Regions from separate parts of the Homo sapiens genome. Here regions 2 and 3 are each linked to region 1. The links come from fine-mapping of genetic effects on gene expression. A gene starts in region 1. Each other region holds a variant in brackets. All regions are shown on one strand. Distances are between the middles of the regions. Region 1 holds the start of KATNIP (katanin interacting protein). Region 2 overlaps KATNIP (katanin interacting protein). Region 3 holds the start of LOC105371157 (a long non-coding RNA gene).

Region 1 (8,063 bases):
GTACATGGCAGTAAATAAAATAATAGACAAATTTTGGTTATTCAGTCTTGGGAATTTGGCAGAAATTTTCTCAAATATGAAATAAGTGAGTCTGTCACTTCAAGGAAACAGCTGACAATATTTGCTGCCAATGTTAAAATTCAAGCTGTCAAGTGAAAACAAGTTGAAAACTTGTTTCCATTACCTTGAGTTTGATAGTTTCCTAATACTTAAACTCCTTTTTAAAATGAAATAGGTGGTGATATTAACAAATGTGATTTTTTAAATACCGTATAATGGCATCTGAAAGGTCAACGTTTAGATTTGCATAACTCACTGAACCAACATTTTCTAAACGACCAATGGCTGATGTTATAAAACCATATATGGGTAAAGCAGCCAATGAAAGGGCAAGATAGACCAATGGATTTTAATGTAACACAGTATAAAAGTTCACCTATAAGGCTTCAGATGACACACTGTGACTAACATTTAAGAAACTGCCACTTGTGGCCTGGCATGGTTCTTCATGCCTGTAATCCCAGCACTTTGGGAGGCCAAGGCGGGCGGATCACCTGAGGTTGGCAGTTTGAGACCAGCCTGACCAACATAGAGAAACCCCATCTCTACTAAAAGTACAAAATTAGCTGAGCGTGGTGGCACATGCCTGTAATCCCAGCTACTTGGGAGGCTGAGGCAGGAGAATCGCTTGAACCCGGGAGGCGGAGGTTGCGGTGAGCCGAGATCAGGCCATTGCACTCCAGCCTGGGCAACGACGGCAAAACTCCCGTCTCAAAAAAAAAAAAAAAAAAAAAAAACTGCCACTTGCAGGCCAGGCATGGTGGCTCACGTCTGTAATCCCAGCACTTTGGGAAATGGAGGCAGGCTGATCACCTGAGGTCAGGAGTTTGCGACCAGCTGGCCAACATGGGGAAACCCCATGTCTACTAAAAATAAAAAAAATTAGCTGGGCATGGTGGTTCACACCTGTGATCCCAGCTACTCGGGAGGTTGAGGCAGGAGAATCGCTTGAACCCAGCAGGCAGAGGTTGCAGTGAGCTGAGATCGTGCCACTGCACTCCAGCCTGGGCGACAGTGAGACTTTTTCTCAAAAAAAAAAAAAAAAAGAAAAAAGAAACTGGCATTTGCTAAATTTTGTATAGTATGAAAGGAGAGTGTCTACAGTTATCTGAAAAGGCAATTAAAATGTTTCTCTCTGCTCCAATTATATATTTGTATGAGGCCAAATTTTCTTCATACACACCAGCCAAAACAGCATAACAAAAAACAGTTTGAATCCTGAAGCAGAAATGAGAGTAGTTTTTTCTATTTCTATTGAATAAACTTGAAAAAACATAAAATAATGCTACTCTTCCTATTAATTTTTTGGAGGCAAATGTAATTGTTTTCCATTAAAAATATTATTTATGTTCAGAAGTAATGGGTTTATTGTTGTTGGAGTTTTTTTGAGACAGGGTCTAGCTATGTTGCCCAGGCTGGTCTTGAACTCCTGAGCTCAAGCAATCCACCCACTTCAGCCTCCCAAACTGCTGGGATCACAGGTGTGAGGCACTGCACATGGCCAATTATTATTATGATTATTATGAGCCACTGCACCTGGCCAATTATTATTATTATTATTGGGTTTTTTTGAGACAGAGTCTCGCCCTGTTGCCCAGGCTGGAGTGCAGTGGCAAGATCTCGGCTTCAAATGATTCTCCTGCCTCAGCCTTCCAAGTAGCTGGGATTACAGACATGTGTCACCACGTCCGGCTAAGTTTTAGTAGAGACAAGGTTTCACCATGTTGGCCAGGCTGGTCTCGAACTCCTGACCTCAAGTGATCCACCTGCCTTGGCCTTCCAGAGTGCTAGGATTACAGGCACGAGTCCATGCCCGGCCCAATTTTTATTATTTTTAAAGGAACTAATTAATGGACATCTTAAGATTTTCCCAGTTTAAATCTTCGATATGGTAAATATCATAAATATAAATAAACAAAGCTCTTTGAGGTAAGAGCATACAGGGGTCCCAAGGCTTAAAAGGTTTGAGGACTGATGTTCTATAGCAACATTACATTGACCTTTCCAGAAGGCAAAATGGTAAAGCACATTTTATAGTACCTCTAAAGTACAAAGGGAAAAGATATATTTTAAGCATATGACAGAATGTTCAATTAAAAACATTTTCTCCACACTACATTCAGTGAATATAAAAAGAATGTGGATTCCCCAGGAACAAATTCCCGAGAAGTGAGGGACAGTGCTGTAATTAGAAAAATGATCTGGACTCTAGCCCAGACCCTACCAGTCTCTCTAGACTTTAGTCTTCCCATCTGCAAAGTGAGATATCAGAATAGCCTATTTTCCATTTGCTTCCAATTGTCAATACCATGACTCTAATCAGGGATCCCTAAATGGGGGCCCACAAGCTGTCTCTGGCCTTCAGAGTGACTGGCCAACCCTGTTTTTGAGAAGTACCCCAAGAGGACAATCAGCTGGTGCTTGGTGAGCAGCTTTCCTTTCAGGTGAGGAATTGATTTTCAGTTACAGCCTCAATCCGGCTCACTAGACTCTCCTCTGCAGACATCTGCATTTACAACCTCTGGAATAAAGGGACCCTCAAAACCGGTCCAAATCTCAAGCTCCATAATTCAGCTCCAGAGACAGGGTGTCTGGGTTTCTCACTCACTCTGCTACATGCTGGTTGTTTGACTTTGGGCAAGTTCCTTAACACCTCTGAGCCTCAGTTTCATCATCTGTAAAATGGAACAACGCTGAACTCAAAAGGCTGGTATGAAGCTTAGCGAGGTGTTGCCCAAGAGTACTTACAGAGTTCTTGGTACTGGAAAGCACTTTGTTAAAGGGAGCTATTATTATTAACGCCAAGGCACAGAAAGGGAGTATTTCCTAAACTCCCTTCACCCCCCACACCAATTCCCTTTCCCAGCACCTGACGATTGCACTCCCACGATCAAGCTTGTTTTCATATCAACTCCCAAATCCGACAGTTCCACATCCCAACATTCACAAGACCCTCCTCAGACCTCTACTTCTCCTTCCCCACCCTACATCCCTTCACTGAGCTCCCGGCCAGTACCGGTTTCCTTCACGACCACAGCCGAGCAGAATGGTCACAGCACTGACCACTCCCCCAGGCTCTCCTCCGCGTTCCAGACCACTAAGCCTCCCTATCCCTCATTTCGGAGACCCCCTTGGGTCAGGAAGTGGTGGTCCAGGGGTTCATGGCCTAGGATTCTGCCCAAAGCGCGGTCGGGAGGGATGGGAGAATAACAGCCCGACCTCCCGGAGGGGCCCACAGACACTCACCGTCCATCCCTAGAGGCGGCGGTTCCGGGAGCTCGAACCGGAAGCGGCCTCTACACTGTTTGCAGTTCCCCTGGTTACTGCGGGGCCCCGGACCAATGACGGTGGAGCTCCACTTACTGAGCCCGCCCCCGGGGAGTGACGTCATGCCGGCGCGCTGGAACTCCTCCTCCGAACCCTGGGTCTGACCCACCTCCCCGGGCCCCGGATCGTTGTGCGCAGGCGCGATGGACCAAGGCCCTTGGCGGTGCGTTGCGCATGCGCCCCGGGCGCCGCCGACTGAAGTAGCAATGGACGCGCTGGAGTCGTTGTTGGACGAAGTCGCTCTGGAGGGGCTCGATGGCCTGTGTCTGCCAGCGCTGTGGAGCCGGCTGGAGACGCGAGTGCCGCCCTTCCCGCTGCCTTTGGAACCCTGCACGCAGGAGTTTCTCTGGCGGGCCCTCGCCACGCACCCGGGCATCAGCTTCTATGAGGAGCCTCGGGAGCGACCCGACCTACAGCTCCAGGACCGGTCAGCGGGCGGCCTGGCCTGGCGGGCGGGCGGGCGGGCGCAGGGCCCGGGGGCTGATGGAGCTGGGGGCAGGGCGGGGGAATGGAGTGGGGCTGTGCAAGTACCGGAGGCCTGTTGATTGAGTTGGGGCACGGCGGTAAGGCTAATCTGGGGTCCCTCAGGCCTGGCAGGGCCCTGGAGTCCGATGGAGTTGGCGGGGGGAGGGGGAGAATCTAGTGATGTCCCGTTTTGTCCCTGTGTGTGTTTTGGGGTAATGGCGAACAGGATTGGGGATATTCTTCAGGCTTAAAAGAATGTTTCCTTTACATTGGAGGATAGGATTAGAGCAGGAAAGACACTTTAGAGCCAGACTGGAGACTCCTGAGATCAACAGACCCTCATGGTATATTCATTCGGTGCAGATAGCCTAGGGCAACTCGAGATCTGCGTATCAGGACAATTAGCGATAATGCTAAAAGCTGACATTTATCAGGGACTTCATGGGTGAGGTGCTGTTCTTTTTTTTCTTTTTTGAGATAGAGTCTCTCTCTGTGGCCCAGGCTGGAGTGCAGTGGCGCGATCTTGGCTCACTGCAACCTCCGTCCGCCTCCCAGGTTCAAGCGATTCTCGTGCCTCAGCCTCCTGAGTAACTGGGATTACAGGCATGTTCCACCACGCCCGGCTAATTTTTGCATTTTTAGTAGGTATGGGGTGTCATCATGTTGGCCAGGCTGGTCGCGAACTCCTGACCTCAGACAATCCGCACCTCTCGGCCTCCCAAAGTGCTGTGATTACAGGCGTGAGCCACGGCGCCCGGCCACATTGCTGTTCTAAGAATCTATTCTAGAAGCTTTAGGAGCTTAAACTCACTTGATCCTCACTTGATTAAACTCCGTTAAACAGGAGATTAAATTCACTTGATCCTCACCTATGAGGTAGGTGCTGTTATCGTCCTCATTTTACAGAGGAAGACACTGAGTCACAGAGAGGGATTATGTAACCTAAGGTTCTGGGGGCAATAAGTGACTAAGAATTGATTTGAACCCAGGCTATTTTCAGCGTCTGTGCTCTTAAGCCATATTGTGAGGGTCAGGGGAGGTTCCAAGAGGTAATAATGTCCAAGACAGGCCGGGTGCAGCAGCTCATGCCTGCAATCCCAGTACTTTGGGAGGCTGAGGTGGATGGGTCACAAGGTCGGCAGTTCAAGACCCGCCTGACCAACGTGGTGAAACCCTATCTCTACTAAAAATACAAAAATTAGCCTGGCGTGGTGGCGCATGCCTGTATCCCAGCTACTCAGGAGGCTGAGGCAGGAGAATCACTTGAACCTGGGAGACAGAGGTTTCAGTGAGCTGAGATTCAGCCATTGCACTCCAGCCTGGGTGACAGAGTGAGACTCTGTCTCAAAAATAAAATAAAATAATGTTCGAGACAAAACTTAAAGGTTGGATTTAGGCAGCCAGTTGGCAAAGAGGACTGTTGGACAGAGAACAGCAAATGTGAAGTAAGTGGCTGAAGTGTGGAATTGGAGGTAGGGAATGAGGAATAGCTAGGACTGTGCTAAGATCCTTAATACAACATGTTATTTAATTTTTACAGAAACCTTAGGAGATGGGTAATATTCTCCCCATTTTCCTGAAGAGAAAATCGAGGCCCTGAGGGGTCAAGTGGCATGCTAAAAGTCAACTAGCAAGGGAAGAACCCAGACTTTGAGGAAGGTCTGAGTTCAGATTCCAGCCAAATTGGACTGGAATCAAGTCTTTTAACCTACTTAAAGAGTTTATCAGCCTGTAATCCCAGCACTTTGAGAGGCAGAGGTGGGCGGATAACTTGAGGTCAGGAGTTCAAGACCAGTCCAGCCAACATGGTGAAACCCCATGTCTACTAAAAATACAAAAATTAGCTGGGCGTGGTGGTAGACGCCTGAAATCCCAGCTAGGTGGAGGCTGCAGTGAGCCGAGATTGTGCCACTGCACTCCAGCCTGGGTGACAGAGGGAGAATCCATCTCAAAAAAAAAGCTTATCCTTTATCAAAAGGACAGTGAGAAGTCACTGAAGAGAGGGTCAGACTAGGGGCAAAGAGTGAAGTTGAGAGATTTTTAGTAATCTAGTCATGGTCTGGCTTACCATGGTGGGCGTGGGGATGAAGAGCACAGGCAGTCAAGACATAGTAGGCTGCTGTTTGGGCACCTGAGCGAACCCTGATTCTCATCTCTGAGGCTGGGAACACGGAAGAACAGCGTGGGGGTTGAGTCTGGGGGAGGTGGGGACTTTGCTGAAGAGACATGTGACACATTTAGCTTCAGGTTCTTTTGAGTTGTCCAAGTGAAGAGTCTTAATTAGTAAACATCTGGCTTCGTGGGAGTGAAAGCAGGCCAGAGGGAGGGACTGAGCTAGACATCTGTGAGTCATTCCTAGCAGCTGGTAATTAAAGCAGCTGGCTAAGATCAGCCCTAAGAGAGAGTGTAGTGTGGTTGGAGGTCTTGAGATATAGCTCTGCAGTGCACCTACATTTCAAGGCTGGATGGAGGGTGAGGGACTTTCAAAAGAAGACTGAGGCGGTGTGGCTGGAGAGGTAGAGGACAGTCAGGTCAGAGTGGTGTTCTGGAAGTTTGGGAGGAGACAGGATCATTTAAGAACGGAGGGTTGGGCTGGGTGTGGTGAATCATGCCTGTAATCCCAGCACTTTGGGAGGCCGAGGCAGGTGGATCATTTGGCCAACATCGTGAAACCCTCTCTCTACTAAAAATACAAAAATTAGCTGGGTGTGGTGGCAGGTGCCTGTGATCCCAGCTACTAGGGAGGCTGAGGCAGGAGAATCGCTTGAACCCAGAAGGTAGAGGTTGCAGTGAGCCGAGATTGCGCCACTGCACTCCAGCCTGGGTGACAAGATCAAAACTCAAGTCTTAAAAAAAAGGAATGGAGGGTTAAATGGTGCAGATAACACAGAGGGGGCAAGGAAGGAAAGGGCTGAAACATGTACATAGGATTTAGCCGCAATTAGACTAGTGTAGGATATGAGTGAGATTTCAAAATAAAACTCGACAAGCAGCCAGGCAAGGTGGCTCACACCTGTAATCCTAGCACTTTGCAAGGCTGAAGTGGGCAGATTACTTGAGCCCGGTAGTTCAAGACCAATCTGGGCAACATAGTGAGGGGAAAAAAAATTATATATATATATATGTATGTATTTTTTTTTTTTTTCAAAAAAAAAAAAACTTGACAAGCTTGGCTAACTGCATGAAAGAAGCACAAATGAAAAATGTCTCCATGGTGTTGTAAGAGGCACATGGAAGAAAGCGGTAGTAAGAGGGGAAAGAAGGGACTTAATTGGAGCTGGGGAGAGGTAATCATATTTGGAATGGGAGGCATTTAATAGACAAGTGAAGACATTGGATCTGTATTTGGAGAAAAAGGACTGAGGATTCAAAGGTGAGACTTGTTAACATGCAGGCGGTAATGCAAACCATGAAAATGGGTTAGGATATTAGAGAGATAACTAAGGAGAGATGGAAAGATGAGATCTTAAAGGGAGGAAAGCTTTGGCCACTTGTGGTGGCTCCCACCTGTAATCTCAGCACTTTGGGAAGCTGAGGCGGGTGGATCACCGAGGTCAGGAGTTCGAGACCACCCTGACCAACATGGTGAACCGTCATCTCTACTAAAAATACAAAATTAGCCGGGCGTGGTGGCACACCCCTATAATCCCAGCTCCTTGGGAGGCTCAGGCAGGAGAATTGCTTGAACCTGGGAAGTGGAGGTTGCAGTGAGCCAAGATCATGCCATTGGACTCTAGCCTGGGCAACAAGAGCAAAACTCCATCTCAAAAAAGCGGAGGAAAGCCTTGAATCATTTCGTCCAACTTGGTGGTTTGGAGACTGAGTACCAGATTTGGAGGGAAACAAAAGCCCATGACTTGGCCAATAAGGAGGTTTAGGTCCCAGCACCCAGCTTCTGGAATAGTCTGGGGAGTCCTGGAAAGGTCTGCGTTCTGTGGGATAGAAAGGCAGGAACCTGCTTGTCAAGATTATCTGCATTTATAAGGCAGGAAAACTGACTGATCTCACTTCTCTCTGATCTCTGCTGGAGGTTGTCAAAAGAACACAGCCAAGCACACATTATATCTGAAGCTGAGTTGGGCTTTGATATTTGTGTTTTTCTCCTTAGGTATGAAGAAATTGATTTGGAAACTGGAATTTTGGAGTCTAGGAGGGACCCGGTGGCTTTGGAGGATGTCTACCCCATTCATATGATCTTAGAGAATAAGGAT
Region 2 (11,359 bases), 100 kb before region 1:
CTCATGCCTGCACACTTCAGCATGTGTCTCCAGAGAACAAGGACATTCTCTTACATGGCCACAATGTAACTATCAAACTCAGAAAATTTAACATCAATACAATATTATCTAATATAATATAGTTCATCTCAAATTTCATTCATTTTCCAAAATTCTCCTTTTATGTAGCAATTCCTCTCCCTCACACCCCTAGGATCTCATCACACTGCCTTTATTGTGTTTTTTTTTAGGATTTTTTTTTTTTTATACTTTAAGTTTTAGGGTACATGTGCACATTGTGCAGGTTAGTTACATATGTATACATGTGCCATGCTGGTGCGCTGCACCCACTAGCTCGTCATCTAGCATTAGGTATATCTCCCAATGCTATCCCTCCCCCCTCCCCTCCCCACCACAGTCCCCAGAGTGTGATATTCCCCTTCCTGTGTCCATGTGATCTCATTGTTCAATTCCCACCTATGAGTGAGAATATGCGGTGTTTGGTTTTTTGTTCTTGCGATAGTTTACTGAGAATGATGATTTCCAATTTCATCCATGTCCCTACAAAGGACATGAACTCATCATTTTTTATGGCTGCATAGTATTCCATGGTGTATATGTGCCACATTTTCTTAATCCAGTCTATCGTTGTTGGACATTTGGGTTGGTTCCAAGTCTTTGCTATTGTGTTATTTCTTTACTCTCCTTTAATCTGAAACAGTGCCCTTTGTCTCTCATGCTACTGACTTTTTTTTCTTCCTTTTTTTTTTTTTTTTTTTTTCTGAGACAGAGTCTCACTCTGTTGCCTAGGCTGGAGTGTAGTGCCATGATCACAGCTCACTGCAGCCTCAACCTCCTGGGCTCAAGTGATCCTCCCACCTCAGCCTCCCAAGTAGCTGGGACTACAGGCATGCACCACCACACCCAACTAATTTTTTGTAGAGATGGAGTCTCCCTATGTTGCCCAGGCTGGTCTGGAACTCCTGGCTTCAAGCATTCCTACCACCTCGGCCTCCCAAAGGGCTGGGATGATAGGTATCAGCTACCGCACCTGGCTGCCACTGACATTTCTGAAGACTCCAGGCCAGTTGTTTTTAGAGTATCCCCCTCAATTTGGGTTTGTCTGGCTGTTTCCTCACTGGATTTCGCTTTTGAAAAACATTTTTCATCCACATTTTCAGTCATGGATTCACTGAGGAGATATTTGGCTAAGGAGAGTTCTCTCTATCATTGTTTAAAACATTATTAAGCATAACTGATGGATGGTCACCTCTGAATACCTTGCTCCTGGGTATAACATCAATAATATTCACAACAGACTGTGGCACATTCTGAGCAAAACCAGATGAGTGCAATATTCCCCGCCTGTGACTGTGAATTGTAAGGAACAAGGAGTCATGAGCCTGGGCTTCCAGCAGGGGCTTCCCTGAGGCCTGGGTGAGCAACATTATTTCTTTATTCCTCAGTTTCCTCAAACCATAACATGGGAATGAAAATCCCTAGAACTTAACTCACAGGGTTAACGTCGTGATGGATGTTACATGCTCAACATGGTGCTTGGCACTCGGTAAGTGCTCATTTAACGTGAGCTCTTATTATTTAAATGTAACATCATTAAGTCAAATCTCTTGTGAATTGTTTTACATCTTCTGGCCAGGCGCAGCGGCTCATGCCTGTAATCCCAGCACTTTGGGAGGTTGAGGCAGGAGGATCACTTGAGCCAGGAGTTTGAGACCAGCCTGGGCAATAAAGCAAGACCTTGTCTCTCAAAAATAAATAAATAAATAAATAAATAAATAATTGGCTGGACATGGTGGTGCGTACCTGTAACCCCAGCTACTTGGGAGGCTGAGGTGGGAGGATCACTAGAGCCCAGGAGTTCAAAGCCGCAGTGAGCCATGATTGCACCACTGTATTCTAGCCTGGGAGACAGAGCAAGACTCCATCTCTTTAAACAAACAAACAAACAAAATATATATATATATATATATATATATATATATATATATATATATATATATATCCATTCTAGGGGGTAGCAGCCCAGCGGTTTTTGTTTGTATATTTGTTTTGAGACAGCTTCTCTCTTTGTCATCCAGGCAGACATGCAGTAGCACAATCATAGCTCACTGCAACCTTGAATTCCTGGACTCAAGTGATCCTCCGGCCTCAGTTTCTCAAGTACCTGGGACTGCAGGCACATGCCACCACACCCTGCACATTTTAAAAATTTTTAGTTGAGACAAGGTCTTGCTGTTTCCCAGGCTGGTCTCTAACTCCTGAGCTCAAGCCATCCTCCTGCCTCAGCCTCCCAAAGTGCTGGGATTACAGGTATAAGCCACCGTGCCCGCCCTGTGGTTTTCCTAGACTCTCTCACGGAGTCCATCTTAAGGCAGGCACAGCTGCTTGGCTACGGAAAAGATCCCCAGCCCTTAGGGGTTAGGATGCTGAAAACTGATCTTACCATCACATCCTGAATAGTTAAGAGGATCCTTTCTTTGTCCACGCTGCTTGAAGGGTCAGAATGTCCACATGCATTCAGAAGGGAGAAGTTAAAACCACAGGGCTTGGTACTGGTGGGAGATTTGGTATCCTAGGGACAAGCACAGAAAACTGGGCATGGTAAAAACAACTTCCTGTCCCTGAAGACATGCTGGGGCCTCGCTCTTCTGTTGGTCTCCCTGCCTCCCATCTTCTCCTCATTAAATCACCCTCTGCTCTTGCTCCTAAAGTGGATCTGATCACTCTCATCCCTGCTACATCAACACCATTGCTGGCACACAGCCAGTCAATGGACCAGGATCCAAACTCAGGCCACCAACTCCTAAAACAGTGCTCTGAACCATGGAGCTGTATGGCAGTTGAGTGAGTACCAGTGTAGAAAGATGGCCAAGGTATGTTGTTGAGTTTTTTTAAAAAATGGGAGGCCAGGCACAGTGGCTCACATCTGTAATCCTAGCACTTTGGGAGGCTGAGGCGGGCAGATCACCTGAGGTCAGGAGTTCGAGACTAGCCTGGCCAACATGGTGAAATCCCATCTCTACTAAAAATTCAAAAATTAGCCAGGTGTGTTGGCACGTGCCTGTAGTCCCAGCTACATGACAGGCTGAGGCAGAAGAACTGCTTGAACCCAGGAGGCAGAGGTTGCAGTGAGCCAAGATCTCACCACTGCACTCCAGCCAGGGTGACAGAGCAAGACTCCGTCTTTAAATAAATAAATAAGTAAATGGGGCTGGCCATGGTGGCTTAGCCTTGTAATATCTGGAAATTTGGGAGGCTGAGGCAGGAGGATTGCTTGAGCCCAGGAGTTCAAGACCAGCCAGGGCAACATAGTGGGATATGAGACCCTATCTCTACCAAAAAACTCCCCAACAATTAGCTGGATGTGGTGGTGAGTTCCTGTTGTCTCAGCTCTTCGGGAGGCTGACGCAGGATGACTGCTTTATCCTGGGAGGTAGAGGTTGCAATGAGCTGTGATTGTGCTACTGCACTCCAGCCTGGGTGGCAGAGCGAGACTTTGTCTCAAAAAGAAAAAAAAAAAAAAGTGGGAAAATCAAATAGCATGGATGGTATAATCCCATTTATGTGAAAATAACCATTAAAAATGTTAAAAAGGCACCCACTCAGAGGTCATTTATATGGTAACCCCAAACAGCAGGAACTGCCCTAAGTTCCTGCTGTGGTAAACCCCACGCATTGAAACTGCCCTAAGTCTCATCACTGGAACGAATGAAGGAAGACTGAAGGGATGTGCTGCAGAGTCTGGCTGGGGGCAGGGTTGGGGTGGGCTGGCCAAGGATGGTGGTCTTTAGTCGTTTATAAATGTCAGCAATAACCACTTTAAGACACTGAACTGTTACTGTGAGAAAAAACCAGACTCACCCCATGCCACCATCCACCCAATGGAAAGAACACTCAGAAGGCATTCCAGAAGACTTCAGGGTGGCCCTGTCTTCCTGTCACGTATCACGCTCTCAGGGACTTCAGAGGTAACTAAACTTGGGAGATACCACTCACTGGGAACGAGACAGGTCCAGGATATTCTGGATCAATGATCTCTTCTTGGATATAATGAAATATGCCATTTTTAGTCCGGATGGTTATCTACCCATCTACTCACAATAATTATCTCTGGGGCAGTGGGATTATGAAAGGACTTTTGTTTTCTTTGTATCATTTGATTTTTTGTTTTTTTTCTTTTAGAGACAGGGTCTTGCTCTGTCACCCAGGCTGGAGTGCAGTGGCATAATCATCGCTTATGGTAGCCTTGTCATTTGAATTTTTTATATCAATTATGCATTATCAGGAAAATAAGTATCATAATTTTTTAAAACGTAAACTTTGTTTCATTCCTGATACATCAACAGAGACAATATAATTTTTTTTTTTTTTTTTGAGATGGAGTTTCACTCTGCCCCTGCAGTACAGTGGCTCCATCTCGGCTCCTGTAACTTCTGCCTCCTAGGTTCAAGTGATTCTCCTGCCTCGGCCTCCTGAGTAGCTGGGATTACAGGTGTGTGCCACTACACCTGGCTAATTTTTATATTTTTAGTAGAGATGGGGTTTCACCATGTTGGTCAGGCTGGTCTCGAACCCCTGATCTTAAGCGACCCTTCACCTCCCAAAGTGCTGGTATTACAGATGTGAGCCACAGCGCCCAGCAAGAGACAATACCACTTAAACGGTGAACATATCATCCATTGCAGCATACAACCATGTGCCCAGGAAAGCCAACATAACTAAGACTTGCCACTTTGGCAGAACTCTCTGGAAAGCGGTGTCTTCCTTTCACCAGAGATGTAAAACAGGTATGATGGTTTCCCCTCAAACTTAAGGAGAATCCCGTATCTTTATTTCTGCCCTCAAGCCCCATGCAATCTGACCCATGGCTGCTTCTCTGACCTCTCCTCTACTTAAGTATCACCTCATCAAGGGGAAGCCCCTGCACCCTCCATATAAAATAGCAGCCCCTGGCCATTTTTCTCTATCCCCTTCCTATTTTATTTTTCTTATCAGCCCTGTTGTCTCCTGACACATTATATACTTGTTTCTCTTCTGCCTTATCCTCAGTGTCCGGAATGGTACCCAGGATGGTGGTACACTGGAGCACACACACCTAAGTAAGGGGACAGCTGTTCCTCAGCTCTGGTCACTGTTAGTGTATAAGAATGTGGAACCCTTGCCTGGGCATGGTGGCTCACGCCTGTAATCCCAGCACTTTGGGAGGGTGAGGCGGGCAAATCACCTGAGGTCAGGAGTTCGAGACCAGTCTGGCCAACATGGTGAAACCCCATCTCTACTAAAAATACAAAAATTAGTGGGGCGTACTGGTTGGCGCCTGTAATCTCAACTACTCGGGAGGCAGAGGCTGGAGAATCGCTTGAACCCTGGAGGCAGAGGTTGCAGTGAGCCGAGATCGCACCACTGCACTCTGGCCTGGGTGACAAGAGTGAGACAACGTCTCAAAATAAATAAATAAATAAAAATGTCAGCTAGTAATTCACATCTTTTAAAAGCAATGTACAAGTCAACGGGGTGGAGG[G/A]CAACAGAACATGTCTGCAGCAAGCCAGTCTGTGAACTCAGAGAAGCTATGAAATTGAACTTCACGGAAGATGTGATTAAAGGCGAGAGGCTGGTGTGTTTCAACAGTGAAGGTCAGATGAAAAGTACATATGCGGACATGCATTTCCTCTTGCTCCATTTCAGGTTGCGCTTGCAAACAGTGTGAGGTGGCTGAGTATATTTAGCCACGTGCCTTTTTTTTTTTTCCCTGTTCAGATTGCATCTCTTAAGACTTCTGCCTTTGCTGAAAACTGGCATTGCCATTTTACTCTTACACTTTGCAGGAAAATAACTCCAAGAGGAAATTGACTGTGAAGCCTTATGGAGTGCCCCCTCAAGATGGGGAAAAAAAAGAAAAGAGAGAAATATAATCAAGCACTCAGAGTGGAGAAAATTAAGTGCTGGCGGAGCAGCAGCCATGCCTATGCGGAGTATGTGCACAAAAGGATGCTAATGGGACTTAATGCTGCTGTCCCGTGTTGTAGGGAGCTTGAGAGCTCACAAAGGAAGGGCTATATGTTAATTTAACGAGAGGTGCCCAATGCTTGACCAAAGGCAAACTACCATGGCCTCTTGCTTGAAGGGCACATACATATCTGGGGCTGGGACTGTAACATATTATGCTTGGCTAAAAACCAGCCTCCCAATTAAGAGAAATTGATGGCTGTTTTGCACAGACTGATCCTGAGCAGGGGGCTGTTTAGTTCAAAAGCAAATTGTCTGTGTTGTTTGGGATTTGAGTTTTAAAGGTAATAAAGTCCACAATTTTGCCTACTGTTTAACCCCACTTTAATGGACTGGGCAGAGAAACAAAGTCATTGGATCATTCCATAGAAAACGACTTTTATATTCTGTTTTAGGGAAACAAAAATTTCCAACATACTCGGGTATTTTACAACCAAGATGTGAAACAAAGTGATCCTTGCTCTTTATCTGTCTTTCCTTTATCAGCAAATAAGGAAGTACAAGCATGAAAGCAAAATCGGAGGAACATTTCCTGGACAGCATTCCCATCTCCAGTAAGAGTCCTTCTCACTTCATAAAAGCGATACGTAGAAGCAAGACTCTGCCTTTGCGGTGACGTCACTGAATATGCAGCCGGGGCCCAGAGTTGAACAAATGCCACTCTGGCAAGCGGGGCAGGGTCTGGCTTAGCAACTTGACTTTGACCTACCACCTCTGGATAATTTTGCTTCTACATAACTATGGAGATGATGTACTCATTCTATTTATAAAAATAATGCCCTTGGAGTAAACCCCAACCATCCACTCCTACCTCCACCCTGGCCCAGGCCTGTTCTGCCCCAGTGCACCTAATCTTCCTTCATTCTTTATCCCCCTTGTTCACACTGTGCCTGCATCCTGCTCCTTGAACAAGCCTGGCCTCATGCCGTTGCACGCTTGCTGCTTCCTCTATCTGGAATGCCTTTCTCATTGCTCCTTGCCAAGCCACTCCTTTTTTTTTTTAGACACAGTTTCACTCTGTCGCCCAGGCTGGAATGCAGTGGTGCAGTCTTGGCTCACTGCAACCTCTGCCTCCCGGGTTCAAGAGGTTCTCCTGTCTCAGCCTCCCAAGCAGCTGGGATTATAGGCGCACACCACCACGCCCAGCTAATTTTTGTATTACAAGTAAAGATGGGGTTTCAACATGGCCAGGCTGGTCTTGAACTCCTGATCTCAGGTGATCTGCCCACCTTGGCCTCCCAAAGTGCTAGGATTACAGGCGTGAGCCACAGCGCCTGGCCCCAGGTCACTCCTAATCCATCAGGTTTCAACTGAAATGTCATGCTGGAAAGAGGCCTTCCTTCTCTCTCTATCCTGGCTAACACTGCCTTCTCTCCCACACCATCTTGCTATCCCATCTTTCTCTTCTGTTTTCTTCAGAGAACTTACTGATACCTGAAATGATCTCATCGTTTATTTCTTCCTTTTTTCTTCATTGTCTGTCTCCCCTTTGGAGCACAGGTTGCTTAAGAACAGGCACCTCACTGGGTGTGACCCATGCCTGTAATCCCAGCTACTCAGGAAGCTGGGGTGAGAGGATGGCTTGAGCCCAGGAGTTCAAGGCTGCAGTGAGCTATGATTGTACCAATGCACTCCAGCCTGGGTAACAGAGCACAATTCCGTCTTTAAAAAATAATACAAAAATAAAAAAGTATAGGCACCTCTTCAGTTTTGTTCATTTCTGAATCTCTGGTGCCTGGGACAGAGCCTGATGGTCAGTGAGAGGTGCTTAACAAATGCTTGTGGAAGGAAGGACTGGGATATACTTTTGCAGTTCAAAGGACTTCAGGAATGAAATGGCAATCTGAGGATGGGGAGTAAAATGTCCTGTTGTCAACCCTGTAAGCTGCTAAACCGACATGGACTCCAAGCCAAAGCTGCATAGGCCTCTAGGCTTTTAAACATGTGGCTCCTGCCGCCCTGCGGGTGGTATTCGAAATATTTATCAGGTGCATGTATACACGTGTGGACAGGCTGAGCATCAGCAATTGCTGCCTGCCCTCACCAACTTGCCCCTCAAACTCTTACCCAGCTTTTAGGACCCAGGACAAAAGTCACTCCCTCTAGGAAGCCTTCCGGGATCCTCTCCCTCCTCTGTCTGCGCCATGCTCTGCCCCAACCTCTCTGCATTCTCTCCCTGTACAGGGACTATGTGCTAGTGACCCTTAGAAGTCAGACCCCAGCCTCACCGACCCCTGGTCACCGGGTGCCTCTGAATGCTGACCTCTAGCCCAAGGTCTGCTCATCAAACTGTGTGAAATGAACGCAAGAGTGAAGGAACACAGCGGCGAGTGAAGGACAGAATAAATAACTGTCAGAAAGTGCCCCGAGGGGCCACTGCAGCACCGAGCCTCGCCGTCCTTCAGGTGTCCCGAGCACAAGGCCAAGGCCATCCCTACCTGCGGACGATCCTCAGAAGTGTTGTTTGCCTGGAGAGTCACATCCCCACACAGCTCAAAATCATCAGAATAGTCCACAGGAGGTTCGATGTGGAGCCGTGGGCCAGCTTCTGTTCTGATCTGCACAGATTTCTGTACAAAAATGCAGGCCATTTCAGATAAGGTGGAATGAGGTCTTCATTCCTCTGCGGGGCAGGGACTGGCACTGGAGAGGTTCAGCCAGGATCTATGGGCATAGATACCATGGGGTGGTGTGCCTGCATGCAACAGCAGTGGTGTCATGATGAGCATGGGCCACAGGCCTCCTCCTCATCCGGGCCAGCACTGGATGGGCCATGCCGCCTCGCTCAAGAGTCTACTGTTTCTTGCTGTCCAAAGAACGTGCAGGAGAATTTTTAAAAATAACTTTTTGGTTGGCAATTCTGTTCTTTTTTTTTTTTTTTGAGTCAGGATCTCACTCTGTTGCCCAGGCTGGAGTGCAATGGTGCGATCTTGGATCCCTGCAACCTCTACCTCCTAGGTTCAAGTAATTCTCCTGCCTCAGCCTCCTGAGTAGCTGGGACAACAGGCACCTGCCACCACGCGGCAAATTTCTGTATTTTTAGTAGAGACGGGGTTTTGCCACGTTGGCCAGGCTTGTCTTCAACTCCTGGCCTCAAGTGATTCACCCACCTCGTCCTCCCCAAGTGCTGAGATTACAGGCATGAGCCACTATGCCCAGTCGGTTGGAAATTCTTTATCAGTAGACTTCTAGTAGGTGCTAAACTTCTCAAAAAGGACTTGTGGTCAAGGCGTGGTAGCTCACACCTGTAATCTCAGGATTTTGGAAGGCCGAGGCAGGAGGATCACTTGAGGCCAGGAGTTGGAGCCCAGCCTAGGCAACATAGTGAGACCCCCATCTCTACAAAAAAATTTAAAAAATTAACCAGGTGGCGGGGCATGGTGCCTCACACCTGTAATCCCAGCACTTTGGATGGCCGAGGTGGGCGGATCACCTGAGGTCAGGAGTTCGAGACCAGCCTGACCAAGATGGAGAAACCCCATCTCTACTAAAAACACAAAATTAGTCAGGTGTGGTGGCGCATGCCTGTAGTCCCAGCTACTCAGGAGGCTGAGGCAGGAGAATCGCTTGAACCCGGGAGGCAGAGGTTGCAGTGAGCCGAGATCATGCCATTGCACTCCAGCCTGGGCAACAAGAGCGAAACTCCATTTAAAAAAAAAAAAAAATTAGCCAGGTGTGGTGGTGTGTGCCTGTTGTCCCAGCTACTCGGGAGGCTGAGGTGGGGGGATTGCTTGAGCCCAGGAGTTCGAGGCTGCAGTGAGCCAAGATCACACTACTGCACTGCAGCCTGGGTGACAATGTGACACCCTGTCTTTAAATAAAAGAAAGGGGGGGGCTTTGTGATTAGACTTGTTTGGGAAACCCTGGCCTACATACTCACACTGCAGATATCCTAAAATGAAACACAGCATGGGACATTTCCCAAACTTTCTGGACTGCAGACACTCTGGACTGGGGCCTCTCTTTCTTCTAGTATCCTTTGGATCGTTCTTTGGGAAGGAAACTCATTGGCCTGGTGTGGCTGATTACAGACTCCCCTCCAATGTCCACTTTCCCCTGCTTCTACTGCCTGTAGTTCCAGATGTGCACATGGAGTCCCAGGTTCCCCTGCAGCTAAGAGGAACCGCGTGAACCCGTTCTGACTCACAAGCTGTGGGTGGGAGGGAGGGATGTGCATTGCATCTTCTAGGTGTTTCCTCAAAGGGCAGGGGCCAGCTTCCCCAGGCCCTGCAGCTTCCTCTGCCAGCTGCAATGGGGAGGTGGGAGTGAGCTGACTGGTGCTGGGGGGAGGAAAGCAACATCTGGAGGATGGTCAGAGTAACAGGGGTTCCTGGGTGACCTCATGGAGCAAGGGCGAGTGCTCCCATCTAAGCAGTGTTGTGTCAGAGACAACAGCTTTCATGCTGTTGAAGCCACTGTTACTTGTGTCTCCCTGCTGGAGCAGCCAAACCTGTACCTTAACTGATGTACCTGGCACGCAAGGTTCCCTACCATGTGGCCACAGCCCACCTTCTTGCCCTGATTGCTGCACAGACAACCACACACCTGATAATTAGGCCAAACAAAGGGCTTCTGGGGCTGCGAGGATCTGCAGCTTCATCAGTCCAGCATCCAGGCTGTGTCCTTCAGGAAACACCTCCCTTGTTTTCCTCTGGGGCCCAATTTCCTCCCAACTCTCAGTCCACATGTGGCCCCATGGTGGGGATTTGAGGCAGGCCTGGCCAATCCACCTATTCCACCCTTATAACATGCTATGGCCAGCCAGTCCAGGGATAGAAACGGACCTAAGGCAGCAATGAGAACAGCCCTGGATTCCTGTTAGAGCCGTGGGAAAGAGGTGCTCTCTTCTTGAGGGATGTGAAGCTAGAGGGAAGTCTATCAGGAGCTGCTGGGGACCATCCTGTCCCTAACAGAAAGAGCAAAGAGAGCTGAGAGGATGAAGCAGAGTCCTGATGGGTTTTAGAAGCCCTGGATCCAGCTGCACCTGAAGCGAGCCCCACTGAAACATTCTCCTTTTTGCTTACACCAGTGTGAAGAGGATTAAAGTTATTTGTGACAGTCTTGGCCCTCCCTTGTACCCTGAACTCTCCCACCTCTGTGCCTCTGCTTATGCTATTCTCCCAATCTGAATGCCATTTTCCCAAATCTTTTCCATGCATCCAAACCCTACCTAGCTTTGGAGACAATGCTCTCTGCCTACCTGGTATCTGTCAGCTGCCTGACTCTACTGAGGTGGCCATGTGCCCCACTAAGACGGTCACATTGCTGGGGGCCCTTGCAGCTAGGGATGGCCACGAGATCCAGGTGTGGCAATGCTAGTGGTTAGAAGTCTACGAGGCAGAGCTTCAGAGAA
Region 3 (11,359 bases), 200 kb before region 1:
AGGTGGGGTTCTAACGCCCTGCTCCTTCACCTTCAGGCAGGAAAGACCTGAAATTTATGTTCCAGACCTCCCTCAAGATCTGGTTGTGGCTGGGCTTCCTGGAAACTATATCCTTGCTTCACTATGCCAGGTTTCTCCTAGGAGCACTCCCTCCATAAGTCACTTGCCAAAGAATGCCCCATCTCAGACTCAGGTTCTAGGGGCCGGACCAAGACAGGTGCTTTATGGGAGATGCTGAATGAGGTCAGGCCTAGCACACTCATGCTGTAAGAGGGGATGAGTGGACCGGGTCTGTGGCTGGGTGCAGGGGCTCATGCCTGTAATCCTAGCACTTTGGGAGGCCAAGGTGGGTGGATCACTTGAGCCCAGGAGTTCGAGACCAGCCTGGGTAACATGGTGAAACCTCGTCTCTACAAAAAATACAAAAATTAGCCAGGTGGGTTGGTGCACCTGTAGTCCCAGCTACTTAGGAGGCTGATGTGGGAGGATTGCTTGAGCCCAGGAGGTCGAAGCTGCAGTGAGCCGAAACCATGCCACTGTGCAGGGCAAGATCCTGTCTCCCCACCCAAAAAAAAAAAAAAAAAAAAAAAGGGCTGGGCGCGGTGGCTCACGCCTGTAATTCCAACACTTTGGGAGGCCGAGACGGGCAGATCATGAGGTCAGGAGATCGAGACCATCCTGGCTAACATGGTGAAACCCTGTCTCTACTAAAAAAAAAAAAAAAAAATACAAAAAATTAGCCGGGCGTGTTGGCGGGTGCCTGTAGTCCCAGCTACTCGTGAGGCTGAGGCAGGAGAATGGCGTGAACCCGGGAGGCGGATCTTGCAGTGAGCCAAGATCGCGCCACTGCACTCCAGCCTGGGGGACAGAGCAAGACTCCGTCTCAAAAAAAAAAAAAAAAAAGAAAGAGAAAGGACTGATCTGTTGTTGGCTAGCCAGCTGGTCTGTTTTTTCCCATAGACTCTCAGCAAGTCACAGATAGGGGCTCTGAGAAAATTCTTACAGACACGCCATACCTCCCGCCAGGGTTCCAGAGGCCTTGGCGATTTCTCCTTCAAAGATGCACTGGGTGTCTAACAGCATTGTGATGTCCTTCACGCCTCGGAAGGAATGTATCCGAGATTTATTGTAGTTCCAAATTCTGATCAGGGCAACGTGGCAAGGGTGCGTGAAGTCAATGGTGATGGAGTGGGATCTGCCCCGCGTGAAGGGGGCCAGCCAGACATGCATGTCATCCTGGGTCCTGTTCACCCCGTCGATGAGGTTGGTGACCACGCGGGGGTCTTTCCCATAGGCTGGTAAAATATTGATATCGGGAGGGTCTGCTTTTATGTTTGAAATCTGCACCGGTTCACCCTTGGAACTGAATATTTCTATTCCGTTGAGGCCGACATAGTGTCTGTCCCCCCAGGTAGACTTGATGTCAATGACCAAGCGCTGTCCATAAGGCAAGACGGGGATTTTAAAGTCACCCCCAGCGTCTGTCTCTCCAGAGTAGCCATCCTGCCCTCTCGACAGCCCTGGCTGCTCCCCCTTCTTGGAGGGGGGCAAGTCGCTGTGCCGGCTGCTCTTTTGCTGCAGGAGCTCATCCAGGATGTCCCCCGGGAGCTCCGTGTTGGAGATGCGTCCCCGGTGGGAGCGGTCGAAGGCACTGAGGGAGCTCCATGACTCGTGAAGTGTGTGCTCCTGCTCACTGCGCCACCTTGACCGTGACGGCGTCCTGGAAGACCAGGTGTCTTCTGGAAGAAAGGACACAAGAGGGGGGAAGCCCTGTGAGTGGCATGTGTGGAAGTGGGGACCATTAGAGACTGTCTCCTGTGGTGGCTCTCAGTGAGGCAGGGCCACCTCCAGGGGAGCCCTCTAGAAACCAGCGGGGTTGTTCCCGGCTGTCTCCTTAGCCAAGAGGCCTCTTGGCACTGGATGGCTGGGGCCAGGCATGTTACCATCCTGCACTGCATGGGGGCCCTGGCACAGAGCTTGGTCTCCTGTCCCACACAGCTTCTGACTGTCCTGTGGGCCATTCAGGTCGGTAAAATAATTGTCTATGATCACCCAATTCCAGAATCTGGTTGTTTTTGCAAAAACACAAAGCATTTTTTCATAGACTGAATTTTCTAAGAATGCAATCATCGTGTGAACCAAGGGAAGACTACTTGGCTGTGTTAGAAACTTTGCCAGGAGTCGCTCCCCACTGTAGAAACTCACATGACCAGGGGCAATGCTGCTGCCTGAGGCGTCTGAGTCAGCCACAAGAGGGTGTGTGCTGGAGACTGTCACAGTCACGTGACTCTAACGGTGTTTTCAAAGACAATTTAATGGCAGGTGGAAGGTTTGTAAAAGAACGTTAAAAGGAAAAAGCCAGATACGCAGCTTTAAATGCAGCATATCCTGGTACGGGTGACATGCACCCGTGTTAACAGTGTTGTTCCTGGTTTCTGGGTGGGGAGCAGGAAGGACTTTTATTTTCTTCTTTGTAGCTTGATTTTTTTAAATTCCCTTCATGCATTACTTTTATTTTCTTTCTTTTTAATTTTTTTTAGAGACAGGGTCTCGCTCTGTTGCCCAGGCTGGAGTGCAGTGGTGTGATCAAAGCTCACTGCAACCTTGACCTCCTGGCCTCAAGCGATCCTCCCGCTTCAGCCCCCCGAGTACATGGGATTATACACATGACCACTGGGCCCAGCCTGTAATACTTTTATCATCAAGAAAAAAATGCTATTTGTTTATTTATTGAGACAGGGTCTCACTCTGTCACCCAGGCTGGAGTGCAGTGGCGTGATCATGGCTCACCATGGCCTTAACCTCCCAGGCTCAGGTGATCCTCCCACCTCAGCCTCCCGAGTTGCTGGGTCCACAGGTGTGCACCAACATGTTCGGCTAATTTTTATTTTTATTTTTTTGGTAGAGATGGGGTTTTGCCATGTTGCCCAGGCTGGTCTTGAACTCTGGGCTCAAGCGATTCGCCTGCCTCAGCTGGGCGAATCCCAGTGCTGGGATTACAGGCGTAAGCCACCGCGCCCAGCCAAAAATGCTATTTTAAAAAGCCATTAAGCCAGGTATATTATAAGGTAAGGAATTTACTTGCACACATGGCTAAAGCCTGTGTCCCAGGTGCGTGGAGAACACGGTCCCAGACTGATCTGAAGGCCCCACGCTCCTTATGGAACATGAGAGCCACGGCGTGCACACCACGCAGTGGCCTGTTCTCACAGCCACGCCATGGCTCACTGCCATCTAAGGGTGTCATCCTGCAAAAACAGCGGCTGCTGACACTGACATTCTGTTTTTCCTCCTTTCATATCGCACTGTGCCCTGTACTCCATTTCCTGCCTGTCTCCTAGGGGGCTCGGCTCCATCAATTATCTCCTCTCTCCAGAATCTCCAATCACTCCTTCCCCACTGGCACTTTCCCCTCTTTGCCTGCAGACATGCATAAATCTCTCCTACCTGGAAGAGAAGAAAGGAAGAAACAGGAAGGCGACCCGCTCCTGTGGCTCCCTCCAACCACAGCCCTATTTTCTCCCTGTTTCGCTCAGGTGCTCTGCCACCCCTCCCACCCCTCCCAGCCTCTCCCAAGCCCCTGCCACCCGGTGCCTCTTTCCAGTGGGATTGTTTTGCTCACTCAAACTCCACTTCCCCTTCCACTCAGATTTGGGGGATCCTTTGGGGACACCCCACCCCCCACCTTCCGGCCATCTAATTGGATCAATGCCGACAGTATCCTTCCAAGCTGGCCTCAAGGAGGGGCACTCTTTAAACTGGTGGTGCTGAAGCTGGAAGGATGTACATGTGGAATTGCCAAAGACTATCTTGCTACCCTATAGAGAGAACCTGCCTGAGAATGAAGCCAACACCGAGAACACGAGTCGAGAGATGGAGGATCCTGATGACAACCTCTGAACTCCTGGATCCAGCTGTGCCTAAAGTCAAACTCCTGGTGGCTTTCTGGCCTTTGCATCCGTAAGACTCCTACAATTCCCTAACCCGCCACTGAAATGCCTTCTCCAAGTGAACAATGACCTCCCAGTCTTTGTCAGTCTTCAGTCTATGTGTGACATCCCTGGCAAACCTCTTCCATTTGATACCTCCTGCTCCACTGGCTTAGGAGCCACTATACCTCCCTGGTTCTCTGCCTCTCCCACTGACAACTCTCTCCATCACCCCAGTCCTACCCTCAGTCTGGGGGTGTCCCAAGGCCCAGGCCGCTCCTCTCCTGACACTGCCATCCTTCCTTGCCCTCATTTAGCTCCTGGTTCCCAGGCAGGCCCTGCTTAACTTTACAGGTCAAGTTCTGCCGTCTCTTCCCTAGGCACCATCCTTCAATTCCAATGACCTCTTGGAAGGTCCAGACATGTCCACTCTGTCACTTCAGTCTCTATGTGCCTAAAATGGAATTTGTCATCAACCCCTCTAGCTGGCATTGTCTCTCCTGCACTGAGAATCAAGACAACCTGACTCTTACCATGCCCACAGCCCTGAGTACGGCCGCCACTGACTCCTGTCCCCTCCCCTCTGCGCTCCCCACCATGATCTTTCAGCTCCAGCCCCGCTGGCCCTCCTGCTCCCTGGACAGGCTGTCTCTTCTGGCCTCAGAGCCTTTGCCCTTGCTGCACCCCTGCCAGGAGTGCTCTTCCTCTGGAGGCCCACCTAGCTGGCTTTGCTTGTCACCCGCCTCCTTGGAGAGGCCTTCTCTGCCACTTTATCCTCGCTCCTGGAGGTGTCCCAGTGCGCAGCACAGCTCCTGGTGTGTGGAAATGCCAGTGAAGGGATGGACACTGGCACCACAATTGTGCAGCCCTCAGGATCAGGCCTAGAGGCCGAGGGACTCCCCCCTCCACCTGTCAGTTCCTCTGCCCCTGTCCTCTGCCCTCCCCCACTTCTCATCTGCCATTTAAAAAGATACCAGAGGTTTCTTCCATCCTCTCCCCTCAGGCACGAGGCTTAACATGTGGCAGAAGGAACTACCCAGATGGATTCTCGTGACTTCAGTTTATGTGATTTGATTTCCACTGACTAAAATGAATGGCCTGGGTTGGTCTGCAAGCGCACCAAGGA[G/A]ACAGCACCGAATGTCACGTGTCAGGGATGCTGCCTGAGTGTGCGAGGCAGGCAGGGACTTTGCTTTCATTCTGCGTCTGCTTTCTAACCTATTCTCCCTGAGTTGTACACTCTGGGTTTAAAAGCAGAGGAGTAGATGGCCGGGCACGGTGGCTCACGCCTATAATCCCAGCACTTTTGGAGGCTGAGGTGGGTGGATCACTTGAACCCAGGAGGTGGAGGTTGCAGTGAACTGAAATTGTGCCACTGCACTCCAGCCTGGGTGACATAGCAAGACTCCATCTCAAAAAAAAAAAAAAAAAAAAAAAAAGCAGAGGAGTTGAGCCTTGCTCTTAGACCTCTTTGACATGAGAGCTGGCTGGGGGCCCACGGACCTCTCTGTCTGCAGACTCCATGGGAATTGGGGAATTGGGGAGCTGCTGGGATTAGTGCTCTGTCCTGTTGTCACCAACATTTCTACAATCTGCACAGACATCAGAAAGCCACTCCTTCAACCTGCAGTCAACACAATCTGGGAGGGCCCCCAGTGATGAGATGGTGCTATCAAAATTCCTGACATACTCCTAGATTGAGATGAATAGGACTATGGAGCTCTGAAGTTTGTCAAAATCAACTGCACTGCCATGAGGTATGTGGTAATTGCTACTAAAACAGGAAACGATGAAGTACTTAGAGGGATATCACAGAGCCATGTTTATTCCAGTGAATCACCCTTTGGCCATAACTGATTGGACAAGGAGTGGACACCTGACCCAAGTAGACCAATTGGCTTCTCCCCTGAGACTTTGGAATTGGTTGCAGGAACAAGAGCTGGGCATAGTCACTCCAGGGCTGTGAGGCCATTTCCTCACATTTCTGCTCATATGGCTGTGAGGCCGTGTGAGTAGCAGAGAAAGCTGATATCGTGAGGAAAGTGAGGGGAAGTGGACCCACAGAGAAGAAGAGGTAGGGCCCAGAAGAAATAGAAAGAAGCGTCCTTGGTTCCTGCCAACTTTCTGGTTCTTCCTTCCGGTCCCCTGTGATGAGTGGCTACACTCTCTACCTTTGGGGTCAAGGTGATCATTAAGGATTCTCCAAATAACATCCTCTTTACTGCTCAAACTGGACTGATGAGATCTCCTCCACCTGTAAACAACTGACCCCTGATGAAAATACTTCCAAAATGCAGATGGCATTCAACGAGATGCTCTGCTGAGCATAAGATTTCTCAGGCTTGCTCTTTCTCTCTTGCTCTCTTTTTTTAAAGAGATCGGATCCTGCTCTGTCTTGATTTTCATAAATTCCCTATATTACTTTGATTTTAATTAATTAAATTTATTTTCTTTTATTATTTATTTTATGATTTTATTTTCTGAGACAGAGTCTCATTCTGTCACCCAGGCTGGAGTGCAGTGGCGTGATCTTGGCTTACTCCAACCTCCACCTCCCGAGCTCAAGCGATTCTCATGCCTCAGCCTCCCGAGCTCAAGCGATTCTCATGCCTCAGCCTCCCGAGTAGCTGGGATTACAGGTGCGCACAAACATACCTGGCTAATTTTTGTATTTTTAGTAGAGACGGTGTTTTGCCACATTAATCAGGCTGGTCTCGAATTCTTGACCTCAGGTGATCTTCCCGTCTCAGCCTCCCAAAGTGCTGGGATTACAGGCAACAGCCACTGTGCCCAGCCCAATTTTCATTTTTTTAGAGACAGGGTCTCGCTCTGTCACCCAGGCTGGAGTGCCGTGGTGTGATCATGGCTGACTGCAGCCTTGAACTCCAGACTTGAACTGCAGATTTTGATTCACTTTAATTTCTTTTCAGGCATTTCAGTGCCTGGGTTCAAGTGATCCTCCTGCCTCAGCCTCCCGAATAGCTGGGACTACAGACACACACAACCACACCCAGCTATTTTTTTTAAAACTTTTGTAGAGATGGAGTCTTACTATATTGCCCACGCTGGTCTTGAACTCCTGGCCTCAAGAAATCTTCCCACCTTGGCCTCCCAAAGTGCTGGGTTTACAGGTGTGAGACAGTGCACCCACTACCCAGGCTCTCTCTTATACTGGCAACGAAATTCCAATCCCAGAATAGAACTTGGGCAGTCATTCATTCTACCAGCATTCTTGGTAGGCTGGCCTGTACCTTTCCGGAAGGGCATGGCTACGGTATTTGGCTCTGGGTAATGGATAATTTAAAATTTCTAAGCAACTTTCCTTTTTAGCACGACTGACTTAACAAGCATGAAATCTCAGGGGCTTGGTTCTTAATGTGCATTGAGCCAAGCACTGAAATGCTTGGAAAGAAATTAAAGTGAAACAAAATCTCTTGAATTTGGGCAAGTTGGAGTAACACCATTGCCTTGGAACTCCTGGAGGCTTTGCACCGACTGTTTGCTGGGAAAGCTTGGAAGGCCTGGCTTTCCCGGGGCAGGTGGGTGATGATGGCTGTGACCATAGGCCGTGACTACTATAGGGTAATGTTTGGAAACATGTATGGTAGAGCTGATCTGTGCGGGTTCCAGTCCTGCTTTAACCCTTACTGTCTATGTGACCTGAAAAATATTACTTCAATCTCATGTTCCCTTTATCTGTAAAATGAGTCTGTTGGGAGGTTATTTGGGTAACGTGCCTGGACCAGAGCCTGGCTTACCACAAGCATGCTGTGCACCTGGTCACTGCAGTTCTTTTTTACAATGGCCCTCCCACACTGTGGAGGACCTGCCATGAGCCAGGCGCCTGCCCTCAGAGAGCTCCTCAACTCTTTCTTTCCACCTTACCCTCCTCCTGACACTGACTGAGCCTCAGTGTTAAGTCTCAGAAGGGGTGAGCAGCAAAAATTTGTAAGGCTGGGGAATCAGAGGAGGCAGCTCTGTCCAGGATAACACTTGGAGTCTGAGGAACTTGTTCCTGTACCCTAAGTGACATGTCAGGGGTATATCTGCTAGACACTCCCTAATACAGAAGATGCCGATTTGAATCATTAAAAAAATGCATGCATTAAGACATGTAATTAACCCAAATACCCATCAATGATAGACTGGATAAAGAAAATGTGGTACATATACACCATGGAATACTATACAGCCATAAAAAGGAACAATATCATGTCCTTTGCAGGGACATGGAGGTAGGCAGAAGCCGTTATCCTCAGTAAACTAATGCAGAAACAGAAAACCAAACACCACATGTTCTTACTTATAAGTGGGAGCTGAACTACGAGAACACATGAATACAGGGAAGGGAACATCACACACTGTGGCCTGTTGGGGGGTGTAGTGGGAGGAGGGAGAGCATTAGGAAAAATAGCTAATGCATGCTGGCCTTAATACCTAGGTGACGGGTTGATAGGTGCAGCAAATCACCATGGCACACATTTACCTATGTAACAAACCTGCACATCCTGCACGTGTACCCCAGAACCCAAAATAAAAGTTAAAGAAAAAAAGAAAAGAAAACTAGAAAAAAAAATGCATGCCTTGGCTTTGCATAGATATTTCACCAAGAGGCAGCATCACAGAGAGGGTGATGATGATGACAGAACAGCTAATATCTCTTGGGGGCTCCTGTGTGCCAGGCACTGTGTTAAATGCCCCACAAGTATGATCTCATTTATTCTCCCAGCACCCCATGTATTATTAGTGTCATTTTACAGAGGAGGAAACAGGCTCAGCAGGGTTTCAGAACCTGCCTGAGGTGTGGGTTGGAGGTGATGGAGCCAGGATACGTGCCCAGGCAGCCTGGCTCCAGGGTTTGTGCTCCCACGTGGTATGGGGTGGGGTTAAATCCAGAGGCTCTAGGGGTGAGCCCTGGCATGGCAGGCCTGAGTGTTCTGTGGATGGAAAAGGACCTCGTCCAAGCTAGTGGTGAAATAACGACTACTACTCACCGAGCACTCATCATGTCACAGGCTCAGTGTTGCTATTTGGAAGCCATCATCTCATTCTTTCCTTGCCACACTGGGTGGGGAAGTCATAACCATTTTACAGATGAAAACACTGAGGCCCAGAGAGTTGTGTGCCTGGCTAGAGGTCCCAGGTCTGTAAGCGGCTGAGTTTGGATTCAATGGTTTGACTCCTAGCTGCTATCCGTACTCTCCAGGAGCCAAGTCTGAGTGCAAATATTGAGACTCCCTGCCTTGATGGGCTCTCCTTTCATAATCAGGAATGCCCTTGAAGACCATCTAATCATCTACTGCAAAGTTCACAAAGCTCTCAGGGTGAGTCCTGCCAGCAGATGTGCCTTTTTTTTTTTTTTTTGACATATACAGTAGTTTAAAAATAATCTCAATCAGTTGCCAAAGTCAAAAAATAAGAAACATTTCTGGTTTCTCTTGAAAAAAGTAAAGAGGAGGTCTGGTACAGTGGCCTTGCATTCATTATTTTTTTTTGAGACGGAGTCTCACTCTCTTGCCCAGGCTGGAGTGCAGTGGCACAATTTCGGATCACTGTAGCCTCCACCTCCTAGGTTCAAGTGATCCTCCTGCCTCAGCCTCCCAAGTAGCTGGGATTACAGGAACGCACCACATGCCTGGCTAATTTTTGTATTTTTAGTAGAGTCAGGGTTTTACCATGTTGGCCAGGCTGGTCTCGAACTCCTGGCCTCAGGTTATCTGCCCGCCTCGGCCTCCCAAAGTGCTGGGATTACAGGTGTGAGCCATTGCGCCCGGCCTGGCCTTGCACTCCTAAATGCTTATTAGAAACCTGAGTGGAGTGGCAGCCGCCCTGTGGGTGGGCTTATGGTCTCCAAATTGCCAAAGTCCTCACTATTCCCTGTGCCACTTCCAACACTCAGGCAAGTGTCAATTGCTATGCATCATCACACTTGTGTTATTATTTTTTCTTTTTTTTCTTTGAGACAGAGTCTCGCTGTGTCACCCAGGCTGGAGTGCAGTGGCGCAATCATGGCTCACCGTAGCCTCGACCTCCTTGGCTCAAGCGATCCTCCTACCTAAGCCTCCCAAAGTGCTGGGATTACAGGCCTGGCCACTGTACCCAGCTATTTTTCTAACAGTACAGTTAAGGATAAAGTGAAGTGACTAGAGACCGATGTCTCTATGAAAGGCAGGAGAACAAAGTCTTTTGGAAAATGGCTTGGAAAAGCCATGTGTTGCAAGAAAAATGGGCAAAGGGACATACCTTGGTGGCAATGACAAATACATCTATGAATTTACCATGCAAAATGTGTCTTGCCCATTTCACTCATGTATGCATCTCTTTGGCCCCTGAGACAGTGATTTTGTGACCCTTAGTTGAGAACAACCATCTTGTTGTGCAGATAAGGAAACTGAGGTCCAGGAGCTAACTGGCTTCATGCCAATTAGAGGGGCTGGGATGATGATGCCCAAGTCGGGCTGCTCTTTGGAGCTTACCTCTGCTGGCTGGCTGGTCGTCCCCATGACTACTGCTGCCAGCATCCTTCCTTGAGCCCCTCCTCCCACTAGCAGGGCGCTCTCTGTTGGGGGGCTGGTTAAAGATGTCTGAGTCATCACTGTGGACTTTGGTGGTTGCCCTCTGGGGTCTCTCCTTGGTGTTGACACTCCGGCTGGTCCCCCACCCTGGCTCATGCCGTAGGCCTTTATCCCTGGCCTCGGTCTCTCCAGGACCCTCACCGATGACATCGTCTGATGGGAGCCTGCCCTTCCAGGCCAGGGGCTTCTCGGGACTAAGCCAGAGGGGTTTTGGCTTCCTGCCTCCCTGCTTCCTGTCCTTGCCGGTGGGAGAAGGTTGTAACCAGGATGGGGTTTTCCCGGGTGGCTCACAGATTTTTCTGCCCATGAGGTTTTCCAGTTGTTGGATGAGAGAGGGCTCCTCATGGACAGGAGGGCACTTCACAGGTGGGGAAGTGGCAGGAGCACTGGGCATGTCACCCATCGAAGTGGGGACTGCCGACAGTCTCAAATATTCCTCTAACTGGGACAAACTGTCTTTCCTGCAATTAGTAGAATTCTTTCTTTTGCCAGACACATTTCCTTGTGAAGAAAGCTTTGCATCCGCTAATGTTTCAGCTGGCGGTGAGCAACCGAGACCAAGCTCCTTGTCCCCGCTGGCACCAGCCATCTCATGGGTGCCTTTGCTTTCTTCCGAGTGAGCGTTCATGGCCTCCTCTAGTTGCTCGCTCTTCTCGTTCTTCTGGTCAACCAGGATGCTGTGGTCAGCTGGGGCCTCCCTATCTCCTTTGTCTAACTTGCCATTGAAGATGAGGTTTCTGTTGACGTAAAGCTTCACGTTCTTGGCACCAATGTCAAGATCCTGAAACCATAAGATTTAACAAAGTGAAGATGCATAGCATCAGACTGATGTATGAAATTTTGGAAGTCGAAGATACC

Evidence for each region. PIP is the estimated chance that this variant, and not a neighbour inherited with it, causes the effect. A credible set is the group of variants that fine-mapping cannot tell apart.
Region 2: its variant is the best candidate, but not a certain one, in a credible set for the expression of KATNIP in whole blood (INTERVAL, PIP 0.87).
Region 3: its variant is the best candidate, but not a certain one, in a credible set for the expression of KATNIP in whole blood (TOPMed, PIP 0.76).

Annotation. Positions count from the first base shown.
Region 1 is chr16:27,545,421-27,553,483 of GRCh38, reverse strand. It overlaps KATNIP (katanin interacting protein), which reads right to left and starts at 3,340. Exons shown (of 28, transcript NM_015202.5): 1 at 3,307-3,340. The coding sequence starts at 3,313. It overlaps GTF3C1 (general transcription factor IIIC subunit 1), which reads left to right and starts at 3,571. Exons shown (of 37, transcript NM_001520.4): 1 at 3,571-3,814; 2 at 7,961-8,063. The coding sequence starts at 3,594. RefSeq lists enhancers at 3,475-3,584, 3,595-3,674.
Region 2 is chr16:27,645,821-27,657,179 of GRCh38, reverse strand. It overlaps KATNIP (katanin interacting protein), which reads right to left. Exons shown (of 28, transcript NM_015202.5): 6 at 8,445-8,576. Among named protein-coding and RNA genes, the nearest start is that of KATNIP, 100 kb to the right of the region's middle. The variant G/A (reference allele first, on the strand shown) is at 5,522.
Region 3 is chr16:27,739,964-27,751,322 of GRCh38, reverse strand. It overlaps KATNIP (katanin interacting protein), which reads right to left. Exons shown (of 28, transcript NM_015202.5): 15 at 10,403-11,282; 16 at 1,017-1,739. LOC105371157 (a long non-coding RNA gene) reads left to right here and starts at 3,433. Exons shown (of 3, transcript XR_950957.3): 1 at 3,433-3,536; 2 at 3,825-3,960; 3 at 4,933-5,007. The variant G/A (reference allele first, on the strand shown) is at 5,056.